Linked DNA regions of Homo sapiens. The protein of the gene in region 5 purifies or fractionates together with the protein of the main gene of each other region. This does not show direct contact. Each region holds a gene or a part of one and is shown on either strand. Other genes may lie near its edges. The genes, in order: THOP1, MANBA, SLC29A2, NUCB2 and ENPP4.

The links.
Region 1: the proteins of ENPP4 (region 5) and THOP1 fractionate together in Homo sapiens (co-fractionation; one large-scale study listed by BioGRID). This does not show direct contact.
Region 2: the proteins of ENPP4 (region 5) and MANBA fractionate together in Homo sapiens (co-fractionation; one large-scale study listed by BioGRID). This does not show direct contact.
Region 3: the proteins of ENPP4 (region 5) and SLC29A2 fractionate together in Homo sapiens (co-fractionation; one large-scale study listed by BioGRID). This does not show direct contact.
Region 4: the proteins of ENPP4 (region 5) and NUCB2 fractionate together in Homo sapiens (co-fractionation; one large-scale study listed by BioGRID). This does not show direct contact.

Annotation. Positions count from the first base shown.
Region 1 is NC_000019.10:2,809,490-2,812,910, reverse strand, and holds part of THOP1 (thimet oligopeptidase), read right to left. Parts: intron 2,608-3,421; coding exon 2,421-2,607; intron 2,272-2,420; coding exon 2,143-2,271; intron 1,314-2,142; coding exon 1,177-1,313; intron 1-1,176. UniProt on the Homo sapiens protein: Involved in the metabolism of neuropeptides under 20 amino acid residues long. Involved in cytoplasmic peptide degradation. Able to degrade the amyloid-beta precursor protein and generate amyloidogenic fragments.
Region 2 is NC_000004.12:102,754,456-102,757,974, reverse strand, and holds part of MANBA (beta-mannosidase precursor), read left to right. Parts: intron 1-3,519.
Region 3 is NC_000011.10:66,362,008-66,365,396, forward strand, and holds the end of SLC29A2 (equilibrative nucleoside transporter 2), read right to left. Parts: intron 2,418-3,389; coding exon 2,218-2,417; exon of another isoform or gene 1,541-2,217; coding exon 1,429-1,540; 3' UTR 514-1,428; downstream 1-513. UniProt on the Homo sapiens protein: Bidirectional uniporter involved in the facilitative transport of nucleosides and nucleobases, and contributes to maintaining their cellular homeostasis. Functions as a Na(+)-independent, passive transporter.
Region 4 is NC_000011.10:17,283,231-17,286,749, forward strand, and holds part of NUCB2 (nucleobindin-2 isoform 1 preproprotein), read left to right. Parts: intron 1-3,403; exon of another isoform or gene 3,404-3,487; intron 3,488-3,519. UniProt on the Homo sapiens protein: Calcium-binding protein which may have a role in calcium homeostasis. Acts as a non-receptor guanine nucleotide exchange factor which binds to and activates guanine nucleotide-binding protein (G-protein) alpha subunit GNAI3.
Region 5 is NC_000006.12:46,143,489-46,147,007, forward strand, and holds the end of ENPP4 (bis(5'-adenosyl)-triphosphatase ENPP4 precursor), read left to right. Parts: coding exon 1-152; 3' UTR 153-3,200; downstream 3,201-3,519. UniProt on the Homo sapiens protein: Hydrolyzes extracellular Ap3A into AMP and ADP, and Ap4A into AMP and ATP. Ap3A and Ap4A are diadenosine polyphosphates thought to induce proliferation of vascular smooth muscle cells.

The DNA.
Region 1 (3,421 bases), on a different chromosome or scaffold from region 5:
GGGGCCAGCAGAGCCCCGAACTCCCCAAACTCCCGAGGTGGCTCCCGCCATCAGCCCCCACTGAAATCCCAGGCTGAGCCCATGAACAGAAGTGGCTGAGCCTCCGGCTGGACAATGTGGAAGCCGCTCGCGCTCTGGGCCGCCCTAAAGGCCCAGGTTTGAGCCCAGCCCTGTGACTGCGGGACTACGGGCAGGTGAGGCAGATGAGACTGCGAGGCGCCGGTGCCAGCCACCAAGGAGACCCCGACGCCCCAGAGCCCCGCAGGAGCCTGCGCGGACTGCAGGCTGCAGAGCCAGGGAGCCACAGTCCCAGCTCCCACCCGGGGGACTCCACCTCTACAGCCCCCGGCCGGTCCTCAGAGGTGGGACCCCCTCACCTCAGCAGCAGGGGGAGCTGCTGGAGGCTGCCTCAGGAGGGGGGAGGTCCCTGCTGGGCTGTGAAGACAGGGGGCTTGTCGGACCATTGCTCCCCCAGGTCCTGGCCTCTGCACCTCTATAAAGGGAGCAGCTGAGTGCCTGCTTGGTGGCTCCGAGGTACCTGCAGGCTGCCCAGTGCAATGTTGCACCCAGGCAGGGCAGGGCCGGCCCTCAAAGCTGGTAGCCACCTGTTCCTTGTGAGGGACTCTGGCGGCTGTCCCGAGCCTGGGTCACACCAAGTCAGCGGGAGGCACAGGCTCACATGGCGTAACGGCCGCACTTCATAGTGAGGAAACTGGAGGTTGGAGGAGCAAATGAATGGCAAACGCCAAGCCTTCTCCAGAGAAGGGTCTGTCTCAGCCCATGGCTCTGAGGCCGATCACGCAGATCCCGGAAGGACTCGTATGGGAAGACACGGAGCTCCCAGCACTCACAGCCCGAGGCCTGAGGGGCCAGTGTGGAGCTTCCTGCAGGGCCCAGGGAGGAGCTGTGGGCAGCACCGCACCAAGACCAGCAGGTGCCTCGGCCGGGATGGCTCACCCGGCACACCCAGGCCCAGGCCAAAGGTGTGCTTTTCTCGGCCCCACCCTGCTGTTGAGGACGCCCTCCCTGTCCCCAGTCCCCGCGTACCTTGCCGTTCAGGACGCCCTCCCTGTCCCCAGTCCCCGCGTACCTTGCCATTCAGGACGCCCTCCCTGTCCCCAGTCCCCGCGTACCTTGCCGTTCAGGACGCCCTCCCTGTCCCCAGTCCCCGCGTACCTTGCTGTTCAGGACACCCTCCTGCTTGAAGCGCGTGTGGAACATGTCCATGGAATACACCTCGCTCCACAGGTACCCGTAGTACTGGGCGTCGTAGCCACCTGCCAGATGGCCGAAGGTTGCAGGCATGTTGGTTCCTGGGGCGGACACATGGCAGGGTTCACGCTGTAGCCCCCACCCCATGCTCCTCCTCCAGGAGAAGACAACCAGCCAGACTCCTGAGACCCCTGCCCGGAACAGGGAGAAGCTGGAGGATCACGGTGAGGGCCGAGACCAGCTGGATACTTCTAGAACCAGAGTCAGCCACAAAGCGAGGGCCACAAGTCTCCGCCCCCTCTCCTGGAAGGACAGGAGCTCATTTAACGGGGCTGTCAGCTGCCACAGAGCAAAGTCCCCATTTTGAGACTGCGTCAATAAAGCAAGGCACGCCCACGCAACATCACAGGCCACGCTGCTGAAAACGCTTTTGGAAAGATTTTTGAAGTCTATGGAGTGTTAAGCCAGCAAAACACCACCCATGTTAAAATCATGCTGTATTTCCAAATTCTGGATCCTCGCAAGCGTGTGTGAACACACATGCACACAGGACAACAGGTGAGCATGGAAACAGGGCCCACTTCTCATCATTAGGATCGGAAATTCCTAGGCCTTCCTGTACTTCTCCAGGCTTTTTACAAAGCATGTGTCATACATTTCAATCAGGAAAACGCCAGCTTCATTCAAAGCAGAGGCTCCAGGGAACACACTCCTCCTGGGGGCTGGGGCCGCACACCCGTCCCCGACCCTGGGCCTGCAGCTGCATCTCAGCTGGGGCTGTCCCCCGAGGAGCCTGGGACGCGCTCCGTGGCTCCCCAGCAGGGACTCCTGCACTTGCTAAGTGAAGCATGGGGACCAACTCCCTTCACCTTCCCAGGGAAGCAGCTGAGGCTCCAAATTCCAGGGTGTGCCCGGCTCAAGGGTGGCTACCTGGCGTGGCCGGGACCCCGAGGATCTCCTGGCAGAGCCGCGCATACTCCTCGGCGGGGTCTGCGTCCGTCTGCGTGTGCAGGGCCTGGTCCACCTTGGCGAGGACGATCTGGCGCAGGTTGAAGAGGCCTGGGCGGGAGGGAAGGAGAGAGCTGGCCTCTGCACCTGCCCCGGCCCACTCTGCCCAGAGCTCCGACCCCCACCCGGGGCACATGCCAGGCCCCAGCTGTGTGCCGCCCCCCGAGGTTAGCACCCTTCCCCGGACGGGGCGGGTGCACCTGTGTTGGCCTGCCGGGACTCAATGAGCTTCTCCAGGAGCTCCCGGGGCACGGCGCTGCCTGTGCGGTAGTGCCGCGACATCCGCAGCAGCGGCTCCTGCTCCCACACCCAGTTCTCCAGCATCTGCGACGGCGCCTCCACAAAGTCCCGCTCCACGTGGGTCCCGCTGAACATGGCGAACTCCGCCTGCAGGGATGGGGCAGAGCCTCAGAGTGCCCAGGTCCTGCCTAGCCCGTTCCCGCCGGCCTGGCCCGTGTCAGCTGCCACAGTGCAAACAGGGCGAGTGCACAGGTGATGCGCTGGGCCCGGCCCTCCCACCCCAAAACTGGAAAACGACCGGGACCCGGAGGCCCCTGGGCTGCTGCTGGCTGCCGGTGGCAGCAGGACACACCTGAAGATGCCGGCCACATGACCCCGTCCCTGGAGGCCACCCACGCTTCTCCTCTAGCCACAGAGCTGCTGCTCCCTGAAAGCTCCGCACCCCGAGGGGTTGGGACCTGGGGACGGCCAGGTCCGGGTGGGGACGCTGTGAGGCATGCTGCATCTCCCTGCTCGTGTGTGTGTGGAACCTTCCCTAAAAGCACAGCCCTTGACTGAGTCCCGCTGGAACCATGGCAGGCAGCCAACGGCGAGGGAACTCCTGGGTGATCCTCAAGGTCCTCTCTGCAACACCGAGGCTTTTCTGTTCCAAGGACCACGCAGCCACACTCCTTGTCCCGACGGAATGCACCAAGGGACTCGCCGTGCCAGGCGCCAGGGACACGCAGAAAGCAGCATGCAAAGCAGGCCTGCAGGCACGTGCGTGGGCACCTGTGTGAGCACCTGTGTGGATGTGCACACGCGTGTGCTGGCTACGAGTGCTGTGCAAACAGTGTGGCAGGGAAGCCAGGAAAGGTGGACACACGGTCGATCCTCATTCCTGGACTCCGTGTTTTCAAACTCGCCTACTAAGATCCACAAAAACCCCAGAGGCCAGCACTGCGGCGCCCCTGAGCAGACG
Region 2 (3,519 bases), on a different chromosome or scaffold from region 5:
GGCCCTGAGGCAGGCACGAGCTTGACAAGTTTCAGGAATAGTCAGCAGGCCAGTGTGGCTGGAGACCTGGGAACCAGAGGGTAGGAGAGGAGTTCAAAGTCTAGGGCACATCATGAAAGGCTGTGAGCCATAGGAAACACTTTGGCTTTTATTCTACATGTGATGGGAAGTTATTGGAGGCTTTGAGCTTAGAGTAGCATGATTAGATTTGCCTTTTTAAAGGTCACTCTGTTGTGTGAAGGCTACAGTGCAGGAGAGTGGAAGCCTGGAGACCAACCAGGGGACTATTGCTGGTCTATGTATGGGCAAGAGATGACTTCTGGCTTGGACAAGCATGGTGGCAGTGAAATGGTGAGAATGGTTGTGAGAACACGTTTTACATGTAGAAACAAGAGGATTTCTTCAGTTGGATTTGTTAATGGATTGGGAGACAGAAGGGGGAGGTGCAGGAAAATACCAGGATTTTTTTTATCTGAGCTGGTTAAATGAAATTTGTATTTAGTGAGAGATTCTGTGGCTAGTCTTGGCTATTTCCTAGGTGATTCTCTGGGTTTTCTGTACAGAATCTAAACCTTTGGTTTCTTAGAGAGTCTTTTGGGTTCTCTGTGAAAAGTTATTCCTTCAGCCTGCTATTTTTTTTTTTTTGAGACGGAGTTTCGCTCTTGTTGCCCAGGCTGGAATGCAATGGTACTATCTCGGCTCACCGCAACCTCTGCCTCCTGGGTTCAAGAGATTCTCCTGCCTCAGTCTCCCAGGTAGCTGGGATTACAGGCATGTGCCACCATGCCTGGCTAATTTTGTACTTTTAGTAGAGACAAGCTTTCTCCATGTTGGTCAGGCTGGTCTTGAACTCCCAACCTCAGGCCATCCACCTGCCTCGGCCTTCCAAAGTGCTGGAATTACAGGCATGAGCCACCGTGCCTGGCCCTCAGCCTGCTATTATGCCACACAGTGTAATAGGCATTAGGAATAAAAAAAGAAATTGAGAGTGAGACTATAGTTCCTATTTTGTGGGAGGCCACTTTAGTGAGGCAGAAAACTAAATAATTTCCATATGTTATGTTAAGTGCATACATAAAGGGACCCTTGTTAGGAATGTTCTCAGCTTTTCTGTGGAATTTCTCACTGGTGTAAGTTTTGAAGCAACTGCTTCTTTTTTTTTTTTTTTTTTTTTTTTAGATAGTCTCTGTATGCCAACATTAAAATATATAGATAAGTAAGAAGAAGGTTGGAAACATCACTCCCAGAGATAACCACTATTTTTTTTGACAGCTGTTCATGTGACTAATGCCCCCAACAGTTTTATATATTTATTTATTTTTATTTTTTATTTTTTCCCTTTTTTTGTTATACTTTAAGTTCTAGGGTACATGTGCACAACGTGCAGGTTTGTTACATATGTATACATGTGCCATGTTGGTGTGCTGCACCCGTTGACCCGTTAACCTCATTTACATTAGGTATATCTCCTAATGCTATCCCTCCCCCAGCCCCCAACCTCATGACAGGTCCCAGTGTGTGATGTTCCCCATCCTGTGCCCAAGTGTTCTCATTGTTCAATTCCCACTATGAATGAGAGCATGTGGTGTTTGGTTTTCTGTCCTTGTGATAGTTTGCTCAGAATGATGGTTTGCAGCTTCATCCATGTCCCTACAAAGGACATGAACTCATCCTTTTTTATGGCTGCAAGGTATTCCATGGTGTATATGTGCCACATTTTCTTAATCCAGTCTATCATTGTTGGACATTTGGGTTGGTTACAAGTCTTTGCTATTGTGAATAGTGCTGCAGTAAACATACATGTGCATGTGTCTTTATAGTAGCATGATTTATAATACTTTGGGTATATACCCAGTGATGGGATGGCTGGGTCAAATGGTATTTCTAGTTCTAAATCCTTGAGGAATTGCCACACTGTCTTCCACAATGGTTGAAATAGTTTATAGTCCCACCAACAGTGTAAAAGTGTTCCTATTTCTCCACATCCTCTCCAGCACCTGTTGTTTACTGACTTTTTAATGATCACCATTCTAACTGGTGTGAGATGGTATCTCATTGTGGTTTTGATTTGCATTTCTCTGATGGCCAGTGATGATGAGCATTTTTTCATGTGTCTTTTGGCTGCATAAATGTCTTCTTTTGAGAAGTGTCTGTTCATATCCTTTGCCCACTTTTTGATGGGGTTGTTTGATTTTTTCTTGTAAATTTGTTGAAGTTCTTTGTAGATTGTGGATTAATTAGCCCTTTGTCAGATGGATAGATTGTAAAAATTTTCTCCTATTCTGTAGGTTGCCTGTTCACTCTGATGGTAGTTTCTTTTGCTGTGCAGAAGCTCTCTAGTTTAATTAGATCCCATTTGTCAAGTTTGGCTTTTGTTGCCATTGCTTTTGGTGTTTTAGTCATGAAGTCCTTGCCCATGCCTATGTCCTGAATGGTATTGCCTAGGTTTTCTTCTAGGGTTTTTATGGTTTTAGGTCTAACATTTAAGTCTTTAATCCATCTTGAATTAATTTTTGTATAAGGTATAAGGAAGGAATCCAGTTTCAGCTTTCTACATTTGGCTAGCCAGTTTTCCCAGCACCATTTATTAAATAGGGAATCCTTTCCCTATTTCTTGTTTTTGTCAGCTTTGTCAAAGATCAGATGGTTGTAGATGTGTGGTATTATTTCTGAGGGCTCTGTTCTGTTCCATTGGTCTATATCTCTATTTTGGTACCAGTACCATGCTGTTTTGGTTACTGTAGCCTTGTAGTATAGTTTGAAGTCAGGTAACGTGATGCCTCCAGCTTTGTTCTTTTGGCTTAGGAGTGTCTTGGCAATGTGGGCTTTTTTTGGGTTCCATATGAACTTTAAAGTAGTTTTTTCCAATTCTGTGAAGAAAGTCATTGGTAGCTTGATGGGGATGGCGTTGAATCTATAAATCACCTTGGGCAGTATGGCCATTTTCATGATATTAATTCTTCCTATCCATGAGCATGGAATGTTCTTGCATTTGTTTGTGTTCTCTTTTATTTCATTGAGCAGGATAACCACTATTAAAGTAAAAATTCAGTGCATCCATTCTAATTTTTTTAATGCATACACTTTTATAAGTATTAAATATACAGCTTAACAACTCTTGGGCAGGCACAGTGGCTCACGCCTGTAATTCCAGCACTTTGGGAGGCCAAGGCGGCAGATCACGAGGTCGGGAGATCGAGACCATCCTGGCTAATACGGTGAAACCCCGTCTCTACTAAAAATACAAAAAATTAGTCCGGCGTGGTGGCCAGCACCTGTAGTCCCAGCTACTCGGGAGGCTGAGGCAGAAGAATGGCATGAACCCGGGAGGTGGAGCTTGCAATGAGCCAAGATCACGCCACTGCACTCCAGCCTGGGTGACAGAGCAAGACTACATCTCAAAAAAAAAAATAAATAAATAAAATAAAATAAATAACAACTCTTTCACATTTAATGTATTGTGATGCTCTTACCTGCATTAAACAGGTTTCTATAAACCATGTTTAGTGGCTTTTTAAA
Region 3 (3,389 bases), on a different chromosome or scaffold from region 5:
CCTGTGCTGGCTGAGCACCTAATATCTAATAGGTGCTCAGTGAATGTTCACAAAGGCAGGTGGGCAGAAAACCCTTGCTTTTCTCTGGGACGGGCAGGGTAGTATAGGTGTGTGGTGAAGCAGGCCTTTCCTCCATCCGTGTGTAGAATTGGTGGGGTCGCCAAAGCCCTGCCCACACTGACTGCCTCTCTAAGGCCAGATTTCCAAGGAGGAGCTATCCTGGGGAGGCAGAGGATGCTGGTGAGAGCCCAGGGGCTCATGGAGTGGGAGAGCAATAGTTGTCCATCCAACTAGGTGCTCTGCCCAGGAGCTCAGGATTCCTTGCAGGTCAGTACCCCCCAGCTATCATGTGGTCCAGAGGACCCAGCACAGAGATGCCCACCAATCCCTACCCCTCTCAGGGCCTCAGTCATCCCACCTGTCAAGGGGGTACAATCTTTCCGACCCCACCCAGTTCACTGAGGCCAATAGAGCCAACAGCACTTCGGAAATAAAGACTTGGTGAACGCATCATACAAATAAATGGGGTTATTAGACCCAAGAGCAGGGTCAGAAGGAGAAACAGCAAAAACGGGGAGTAAGTGCCCAGGCTCCTGCCCCAAACCCCTTGAGGAAAAGAGAAACAGGTGTTGGGCAGGAAGAACAGCACCAACAGGGAGGAGAGAGAGGGGATTGGGTCCCGGCTCTACCACGGACCAGTCACTTTCCCCAGGACTCAGTTTTGTCACCTGTATAATGGGGGAAGCACAATCCTTGCCTGACTCCTTCCAAGAGCCTCAATTAGGCTTCGGTGAGAGAGTGGGTATGGAAGAGCTTTGCAAACTGTAAAGTGCAGTACACACATGCAGGCTAGCTGTGGCCCTGGGGCCCAGGCCCAGCTGGGCTCTGCGGAGTGGGTACAGTAAGTGTTGGCAATGAAAACACTGCTTGAGGCTGAGCCTGGCCCTTTGAGCACCCTCAGGTCCTCCACATCTGTTCCTCCTCTCAGGTGCCCACAACTTCCCTGGCACCTTTTACCCTGGGTGGCTGAGGCCTGGGAAGATGAGGCGCTCCTGGCCTGGGCTGGCCCCGCCTCCCACTCTGAACCCTCTGGTCACCTCTGCTCCTGATGATGATGAACAAATGCAGACCTGGTGGTGGGGAGCAGCCGTGCCCTGCACCCTCTTTTCCCTAGTCATCACCCTTTCCATGAGGTCTTGTGCGAGTCACCCCCATTCCTGGGTGAGGGTTAGAATGACCGGTGGTGATTTCTTCCCCACAGCACTCCAAGTGGATGAAGAGCAGCTCCTGCCCGCTGCTGGCAGCCTCAGGCCCAGGGGCCTCCACCCCGCAGAGGCCTGAGCCAAGCTCGCCATTCGCCCTGGGCTGGATCTCAGCTCCGGAAGGAGACGTCGAGAAGAGGCTGCCAAAGAGCCTGGAGGGGCCACTTCAGAGCAGCGCCTTGAAGAGGAAGGAGAGGGAGGCTCCACAGGAAAGTCCCAGGGCCAGGAAGAAGGTCATGAGGGCGCCGGCCACCTCCCTCTCGTGTGGCAGCACCTGCCTAGAACACCCGGGAACAGGAGCTCTTAGAAAATGCTGGGTCTAAATCTGGACCCAGCTCCACTGCCCTCTGCCCATCCAGTCTGGGCTCTGACCCAACCCCTCTGTCACCATAACTGGCCCCTTCTTTCCGGGCCTCAGTTTCCTGGTCTGTAAATGAGGCTGCTGGATAAGGATGTCTCTCAGGGCCTCTGAGTCTAACATGATGGGATTCCAGATTCCACAGCCTGCCCTTTCCACAGTGCTCTCAGCCTGTCTGCCCTGCCAGCTTCATTCTCTCTGGATTCTCCACTCCATTGCCCCTTGAGGAAATAGCCCATGACCTTGTTTTTGGTCAAAACCTTAGCTCTCCTTCAACTGAGAATTTTACAGTTAGATGGGCCCTGAGGGATGACAGTTCAACCCATTTTTTTTTACAGATGGGGAAACTGAGGCACATTGAGGCGGCCCCAGAACCAGTGCCTGGGCTACTTGGTTGGGCGGGTACCTCCCTAGCCCAGTTCTCTCCCCTGCAGTTAAGGCTTGGCCCAGTAGGGGGCGCCAGCAAGGCCTGCAGACAGCTAGGGTTGGGCTGGCCAGAAGCAGGATGGGCCGTCCCTCCATTGCAGGCGGTCCCTTCCCAAAGACTGAACCCACCTCCCTACTCCCAGCCCCCCACCCCACCCCATTGCCCCGGACCTGGGCGCCAGGCACATGGTGAGGGACACCAGGTAGCCATTAGAAACGGCAAAGAGCAGCATGAAGGTGATGAAGTAGGCATCCTGTGGGAAGAGGATGGGCAGCCGGGACCTCTGGGGCACGTGGCACAGCATGAAGAGGGGCACGAACAGGAACCGCAGGCAGACCAGCAGGGGCAGCAGCCGGCTGTCCTCGTCTGGCTGTGGTAGAAGCTGAAGTCAGCATGGTCCCTGGAGCCAGGTCTCTGCTCCAGGGCATCTCAGGACACCCATAGAGTACTTTTTTTTTTTTTTTTTTTAGATGGAGTCTCGCTCTGTTGCCCAGGCTGGAGTGCAGTGGCCCTGATCTCAGCTCACTGCAACCTCCACCTCCTGGGTTCAAGAAATCCTCCTGCTTCAGCCTCCTGAGTAGCTGGGACTATAGGCGCCTGCCACCACCATGCCCAGATAATTTTTATATTTTTAGTAGAGCCAGGTTTCATCATGTTGGCCAGGCTGGTCTCGAACTTCTGACCTCGAGTGTTCCACCTGCCTCAGCCTCCCAAAGTGCTGGGATTACAGGCGTGAGCCACCATACCCGGCCTCTATTTTTTTCATTAAAAATTTGTGTGTGTGTGTGTGTACAGACAAAGTCTCACTGTGTTGCCCAGGCTGGTTTTGAACTCCTGAGCTCAAGCGATCCTCTTGCCTTGGCCTCCCAAAGTGCTCGGATTTTAGGGGTTTTTTTGTTTGTTTGTTTTTGAGACAGAGTCTCGCTCTGTCTCCCAGGCTGGAGAGCAGTGGTGCGATCTCGGCTCACTGCAGCCTCTGCCTCCCTGGGATTACAGGTGTGCACCACCACACCTGCTAATTGTTATCTTTTTAGTAGAGACGGGGTTTCACCATGTTGGCCAGGCTGGTCTCGAACTCCTGACCTCGTGATCCACCCGCCTCGGCCTCCCAGAGTGCTGGGATTACAGGTGTGAGCCACCGCGTCCAGCCCCAGAGTGCTAGGATTATAGGTGTGAGCCACCACGCCTGGCCCACCCATAGGATAGACCCATCTGTCACCCCCTGACCTCCTCTGACCTGACCTACCTTGTGAGCCAGTGAGGGAGGACCCAGCACTGGGGCCTGGGCCAAGTCCACCCAGAAATCAGGGACTGGCCTGGGGCTCACCTCTGCCTCTCCCAG
Region 4 (3,519 bases), on a different chromosome or scaffold from region 5:
ATCACTGTCATGTTCCAGGCAGCAAAGCATAGGCGAAGAAAGATGCATCCTCTTCCTTTAAGGAGAATTCCTGAACCAAGGCTGAGGCTATAAGAAAGCAGGGAAATGTAGCTGACTGCATGTCTGCCCTCTATAAAATTGGGCTTTTGTTACTGAGAAGGAAGGAAAGATTTGGATATTGGCAAGCAAATAGAAGTGTCTGCCATGATATGAATCTTTTTATCTTTCAGCTCTGAAATCTGTAAGCTGTGATAACCACTCATAGAAGCTTCTATAATTTGCCATGGCAGAGATATAAGTCTGACTATTAACTACAGAAGGAAATAATCTTCATGTAATAAATTGTGTTTCTGTTTTTACTTTTAGCCCTTAATTCATTATAGAAGCTTTTCTGTCTTATTTGTGGATTTGTTCTGGTTATTTTTTAAAATTACCCATAAATGCTCAATAGATGTTTGTTGTACATTTTATGGTTGTGTTAAAAAGAGCTAACATTTATTGAGCTACTTGCTATAATCAAGGCACTAAAATGACAGAGATAAGTTATCCCAAGGGTATCACATAACTAATCATCAGGAAGTAAATTTATATTGAAAGTAAATATAATTCATCTCAAGATACATTTCACTATGGTCACATGAGGAACACTTGCCTTCCTTGCTAGCTAAAAGTAGTTTGTTCTTTTTCTTTCCTTTCTTCTTTTTTTAACCACTTAACTGTTAGTTGTCTTGAAATTTTCTCTTACTACTAGTTCTTGCTTAACTTATTTAGCCACACCAATATTTTATTTCCTTCCAGACTTTTATTTTTTTTGTTGAGACGGAGTCTCACTCTTTCACCCACGCTGGAGTGCAATGGCTTAGTGCAACCTCTGCCTCCTATGTTCAAGCGATTCTCCTGCCTCAGCCTCCTCAGTAGCTGGGACTACAGGCATCCACCACCACACCCAACTAATTTTTGTATTTTTAGTAGAGATGGGGTCTCACCATGTTGGCCAGGGTGGTCTTGAACTCCTGACCTCAGGTGATCTGCCTGCCTCAGCCCCCTACAGTGATGGGATTACAGGAGTGAGCCACCGTGCCCAGCCCCTTCCAGACTTTTCTTTGTGAATATTATATAAATATACCCTATACTTGTCCTGCAAAATGGTTCAATTGTCATTATTTCTATTTCAAAAGTAAACTGAAATAAATAGCTTTGAGAAAAAGAAATTCAGGGAATGGAAATTGGAGTGAGAAAGATTCTAAAGATTCAGTCAATCTTTTAGAGTTTTTAGAAGGGAGACAGTAAGTTAAGATTTTATTTCTACACAGTATATTTGTATTTTTGAAAGTTTTTACATTTTTTGGTTGTATTAGATAGGCACAAAGTACAGTAGTTCTTTTGCTGCTAGTATTGCAGTTTCCTTTTTTCTGATCTAGACTTGTTGACCTCAAACAAAATAATCAGGAGACTTGTGACCATAAAAACAACCCAGTTTTTAAGAGACATTTAACGTTATAAATCACCTGACTGAGAATGTCTGTTTGGTGAATACCATTTTCATGACTTTTAATTTTTTTTAATTAACAGAAAAGTATCATGCTATGCATTGTTTTGTAAGCAGCATTTTAAAAATTGCAATTGTATTTAATAGCTTACCTTCCTCACTAGATTGAAGCCCTGTGAGGGTAAGGACTATGTCGATCTCGCTTACCTTTGTCTTCTAGCATAGTATCTGGTACCATAGTCATTACTTAATACATAAATATTAGTTTAGTTTTGTTTTTAGAAACAAAGTCTCAATACATACATACATACATACATACATACTTATAATAGGTTAAAGGAAACATGCTTCAATTCAGCCATTAATTGAAAAGGAAGAGGGGCAAAAGAAGAGGGTTGAGGAAGATGGAAAAAGATACATAAAAGAGGCTGGGCGCGGTGGCTCATGCCTGTAATCCCAGCACTTTGGGAGGCCAAGGCGGGCAGATCACAAGGTCAGGAGATCAAGACCATCCTGGCTAACATGGTGAAACCCCGTCTCTACTAAAAACATACAAAAAAATTAGCCGGGCGTGGCTGGGTGAGGTGGCTCACGCCTATAATCCCAGCACTTTGGGAGGCCGAGGCGGGCGGATCACGAGGTCAAGAGATCGAGACCAGCCTGGACAACATGGTGAAACCCTGTCTTTACTAAAAAAAACACAAAAAATTAGCCAGGCATGGTGGCATGCGCCTGTAGTCCCAGCTACTTAGGAGGCTGAGGCAGGAGAATTGCTTAAACCCAGGAGGCGGAGGTTGCAGTGAGCTGAGATTGCACTACTGCACTCCAGCCTGTGCAACAGAGCGAGACACTGTCTCAAAAAAAAAAAAAAAAAATTAGCTGGGCGTGGTGGCGGGCACCTGTAGTCCCAGCTACTCAGGAGGCTGAGGCAGGAGAATGGTGTGAACCCGGGAGGCGGAGTTTGCAGTGAGCCAAGATCGCGCCACTGCACTCCAGCCTGGGTGACAGAGTGAGACTCCGTCTCAAAAAAAAAAAAAAAAAAAAAAAGATATATAAAGGAGGAACAGAGACTACTTCCAAGGAAAGAGAAAATTTTCAGTTTTCTGTACTTTTCACCCTGGTTATCTATGGTAATTTTTTTTAACCACTTCCAGGATATCTTGCCCAACAATCAAAACAGGAAACCATCACACATACATGCGCGCACGTGTGCGTACACACACACACACACACACACACACACACACAAAGCAAACTTAATCTGTATAACTATGGGTATAAATCAGTAGCTAAGAAATCTGCCTCTGTGTATGAATGGAAATTTTATTTTTTGAGACATGTTCTCACTCTGTCACCCTGGCTAGAGTGCTGTGGCGTGACCATGGCTCACTGCAGCCTCAACCTGCTGGGCTCAGGTGATCTTCCCACCTCATCCCCCACCAAGTAGCTGGGACTACAGGCATGTGCCACCATGCCCAACTAATTTTTGTATTTTTTGTAGAGACAGAGGTTTCACCATATTGCTCAGGCTGGTCTTGAACTCCTGGGCTCAAGGAATCCACCCTCCTTGTCCTCACAAAGTGCTGGGATTATAGGCAGGAACCTCCGTGCCCAGCAGAATAGAAATTTTGACTTGGTTGAGACAGGGGAAGAGAGATTAGCTTTCTTTTAGGACTTTAAAATTTAAGGAAATTATATCTACTGAATACTAAGAGAAGCTTAAGAACTCTGCTTACTTTGTAATTTTACCAGAGGCTCTGATGCCTTTGGGGTCAGTGCCTCCCATTCTGTCTTGAGATGACTACATAATTTAGAATTTCACACCATCCTACTTTAGAGAGTAAATTATCAGCCTGTCCTGGTTTGGATGAGTCTACTGTTTCAGCCTGGTTCAGCCCAGTGTCTCCTCTTTAGGTCCGTATCTCTCTTATGAAAGAAGAGGGTGATAAAGGAAAGGAGAAGGCCATTCTTACTGACCTGATAGTGGAAGAAAAGTAGGTTAGTTCTCCTTCTTCCTATTGCCTGTCCTT
Region 5 (3,519 bases):
TCCCAGAAGCCATCGCGATTGTTATCGGTTCACTCTTGGTGTTAACCATGCTAACATGCCTCATAATAATCATGCAGAATAGACTTTCTGTACCTCGTCCATTTTCTCGACTTCAGCTACAAGAAGATGATGATGATCCTTTAATTGGGTGACATGTGCTAGGGCTTATACAAAGTGTCTTTGATTAATCACAAAACTAAGAATACATCCAAAGAATAGTGTTGTAACTATGAAAAAGAATACTTTGAAAGACAAAGAACTTAGACTAAGCATGTTAAAATTATTACTTTGTTTTCCTTGTGTTTTGTTTCGGTGCATTTGCTAATAAGATAACGCTGACCATAGTAAAATTGTTAGTAAATCATTAGGTAACATCTTGTGGTAGGAAATCATTAGGTAACATCAATCCTAACTAGAAATACTAAAAATGGCTTTTGAGAAAAATACTTCCTCTGCTTGTATTTTGCGATGAAGATGTGATACATCTTTAAATGAAAATATACCAAAATTTAGTAGGCATGTTTTTCTAATAAATTTATATATTTGTAAAGAAAACAACAGAAATCTTTATGCAATTTGTGAATTTTGTATATTAGGGAGGAAAAGCTTCCTATATTTTTATATTTACCTTTAATTAGTTTGTATCTCAAGTACCCTCTTGAGGTAGGAAATGCTCTGTGATGGTAAATAAAATTGGAGCAGACAGAAAAGATATAGCAAATGAAGAAATATTTTAAGGAAACCTATTTGAAAAAAAAAGCAAAGACCATTTGATAAAAGCCTGAGTTGTCACCATTATGTCTTAAGCTGTTAGTCTTAAAGATTATTGTTAAAAAATTCAGAAGAAAAGAGAGACAAGTGCTCTTCTCTCTATCTATGCTTAATGCCTTTATGTAAGTTACTTAGTTGTTTGCGTGTGCCTGTGCAAGTGTGTTTGTGTGTGGTTGTGTGGACATTATGTGATTTACTATATAAGGAGGTCAGAGATGGACTGTGGCCAGGCTTCCACATTCCTGAAGCACACAGATCTCAGGAAAGGTTATTTTTGCACTTCATATTTGTTTACTTTCTCCTAACTCACAAGTTAAAATCATAACTTAATTTCATTAACTTTTATCATTTAACTCTCTCATGTTTGTTGTAACCTGAGGTATCCAAATGCTACAGAAAAATTTATGACCCAAATACAAATCTCAATTTGACTGGGACAGAATGAGGAATGGAGATTTTTGTATTTATCTTTGGGACTTTATGCCTTACTTTTTAGGCTATAGAATAGTTAAGAAATTTTAAACAAAATTTAGTATCTTTTGGTCTTTCACACCATTCATATGTTAAGTGGCAGAATAGCCTTAGTGCTACCTCCACTTTTTTCTCCAGTATTTGCATCACAGAAATAATCCCTCTGTTTAACATGTTTGTTCAGAGCCAAGGGTTTATTGTGAAGAACTGTCATCCTGCCTTTGCTAGCTGGTACCTTCTAGTAATCAAAATTAATATGAAGAAACTAGGTTGTGACAGACTAGATTATATTTAGTAGGGGAAAAATTGGGCTCAAGAACCATTCATCAGTACGTGAGACAAGCAGTTAATAGTATGATCTTTAAAGTTTTGACAATATAAAATAAACTTGGTAACTGTTTTACAAATATAAAAGTATAATAAATATGCAGCCCAGTTAAATATTGATTATCTGTGATGGTAAAGAACAACAGTGGTGCCAGTCATCAAACATACAGTGCGTCCTATTGAGTCACTGCTAATTTCTTGAGCCTGGTATTTGCTGCCTATTGTATTTGTGGTTGTTGAGAGGCATTTTCAAACCCTGTATAAATAATCCATGCTGTTGGTCATAAGTTAACTGTATTAAGAACAGTAAAATAAATAAAAACCAATAGTACTAATTTTGCTTTAAAAAAATTTCTAATTTTTTTCACATAAAACAATTATCCTAAAGGTTAATAGTTGATCGAAACAGAATAATAGAAAAATTCTACTTTAATTTCCATTAAAAAGCAAATAGCATTGACACATTTAAAGCTTTTCATTTAAAGTAGTGGATGTTTTTGAAGTATCTAAAATAGTAGCAGAATATTTTATACTTGGTCCTTGCAATGGTGTGAGTTTTAATGATTGCATTATCGTGATTGGTGGTTATGAGTTTCAGAAATCTATACTTGGCATCCAACTCATGAGTGGATTTTATATAGGATGGAACAGGAAGGTATGTCCTGTCAGTATCTTAACCCTTTCAACAAGACATTTACCTATTTGTCTTTCCTTACGTTCTCAAAATATTAACTCGAATTGTAAATTAAGCAAAAATTTAAAAAGTATATGTTGATGGGACAAGAAGAATAGTATTTATTTAATAAAACATATATTATATTGAACTATGTGTTAATTCATTTGTATCTTTTAAAAAATTATCACTGTTAAAGCCATTGACTCCTTTAGTACACTGAGAAAAATCTTATAGTAAAACTAGCCTTTCACATTAAGGTTTTGGTGTGTATTTTGTTAAATAACTAACATGCTGCTCTATTTTCTGGGTGTAGAAAGTATTTGGCTCTAGGAAACATTTACTTGTTTGTGAAAACAATACCCCAAGGTAATAGGAAAAGTTTGAGTTAAGTGTTTTTAATTCAGTCAGTGAATTCAGAATAAGTACATTCATGTATAACATAGGGACAGTTCTGCTGCTGTTATTTATATGCAATTCTTCTGGTAAATAGCAATAGAATAAAACATATTTCAATGTTTGTGTATAGGTTTTATATTATTATTCCACTAGGAATGGCATAAGAATTTATAGATAAATTCTTGTAACATTAAAGGATTAAAATGTTTTTACATTGTTTTTGGGTGTCTCCTTCTTGTGCCCATATCTGATAAGCTTTATGGATTATTGCATTTAATTCCTTTTATTTGGAGGGTTTTACTTCCTTGTTAACATATAAAGTTATAAATGAAGGACAAGGAGGAGATGGAAAATGTGTATTTATTGTTAATTCTTAAAATAGTGTGTAAATAAAATAACATCAGTGTGCTTTAAAGAAATGTGTATGTAGTGCCTTAATTTAAATTAAAATATTTTTGACTGTTACTTGAGTTCAGAATTAATGACTTTGTTCATGATTTTTAAAATGTGTGTGAATAAAATCTACCAAAAAATTCTTACTGTAATTATTAAATATAAAGTTCAGTGTCACTGGTGATTTTTACATTTGTTACCTTCTTGCAAAATATACTTACTGTGCTAGATGTTGACATGACTTAGTAATATTATAGAAGCCCACATAGGTGTTTATTAGGATTTTTTAACTCTTTAACAAAAAGTTTAAAACAGTGTGTAAGTATACAATCCAGCATAAGAACATCATTGGAAAGAAAGCCAAGATAAGTTTTATAGAACCTCCAGAGCTATGATTTATTGGCTTATGGTAGAAGAGAAGAGGTTTGAAAAAAACCGATTATAAAATAGTGGGGATGGTAGGGGAAGCATTATAATGTTTAAAC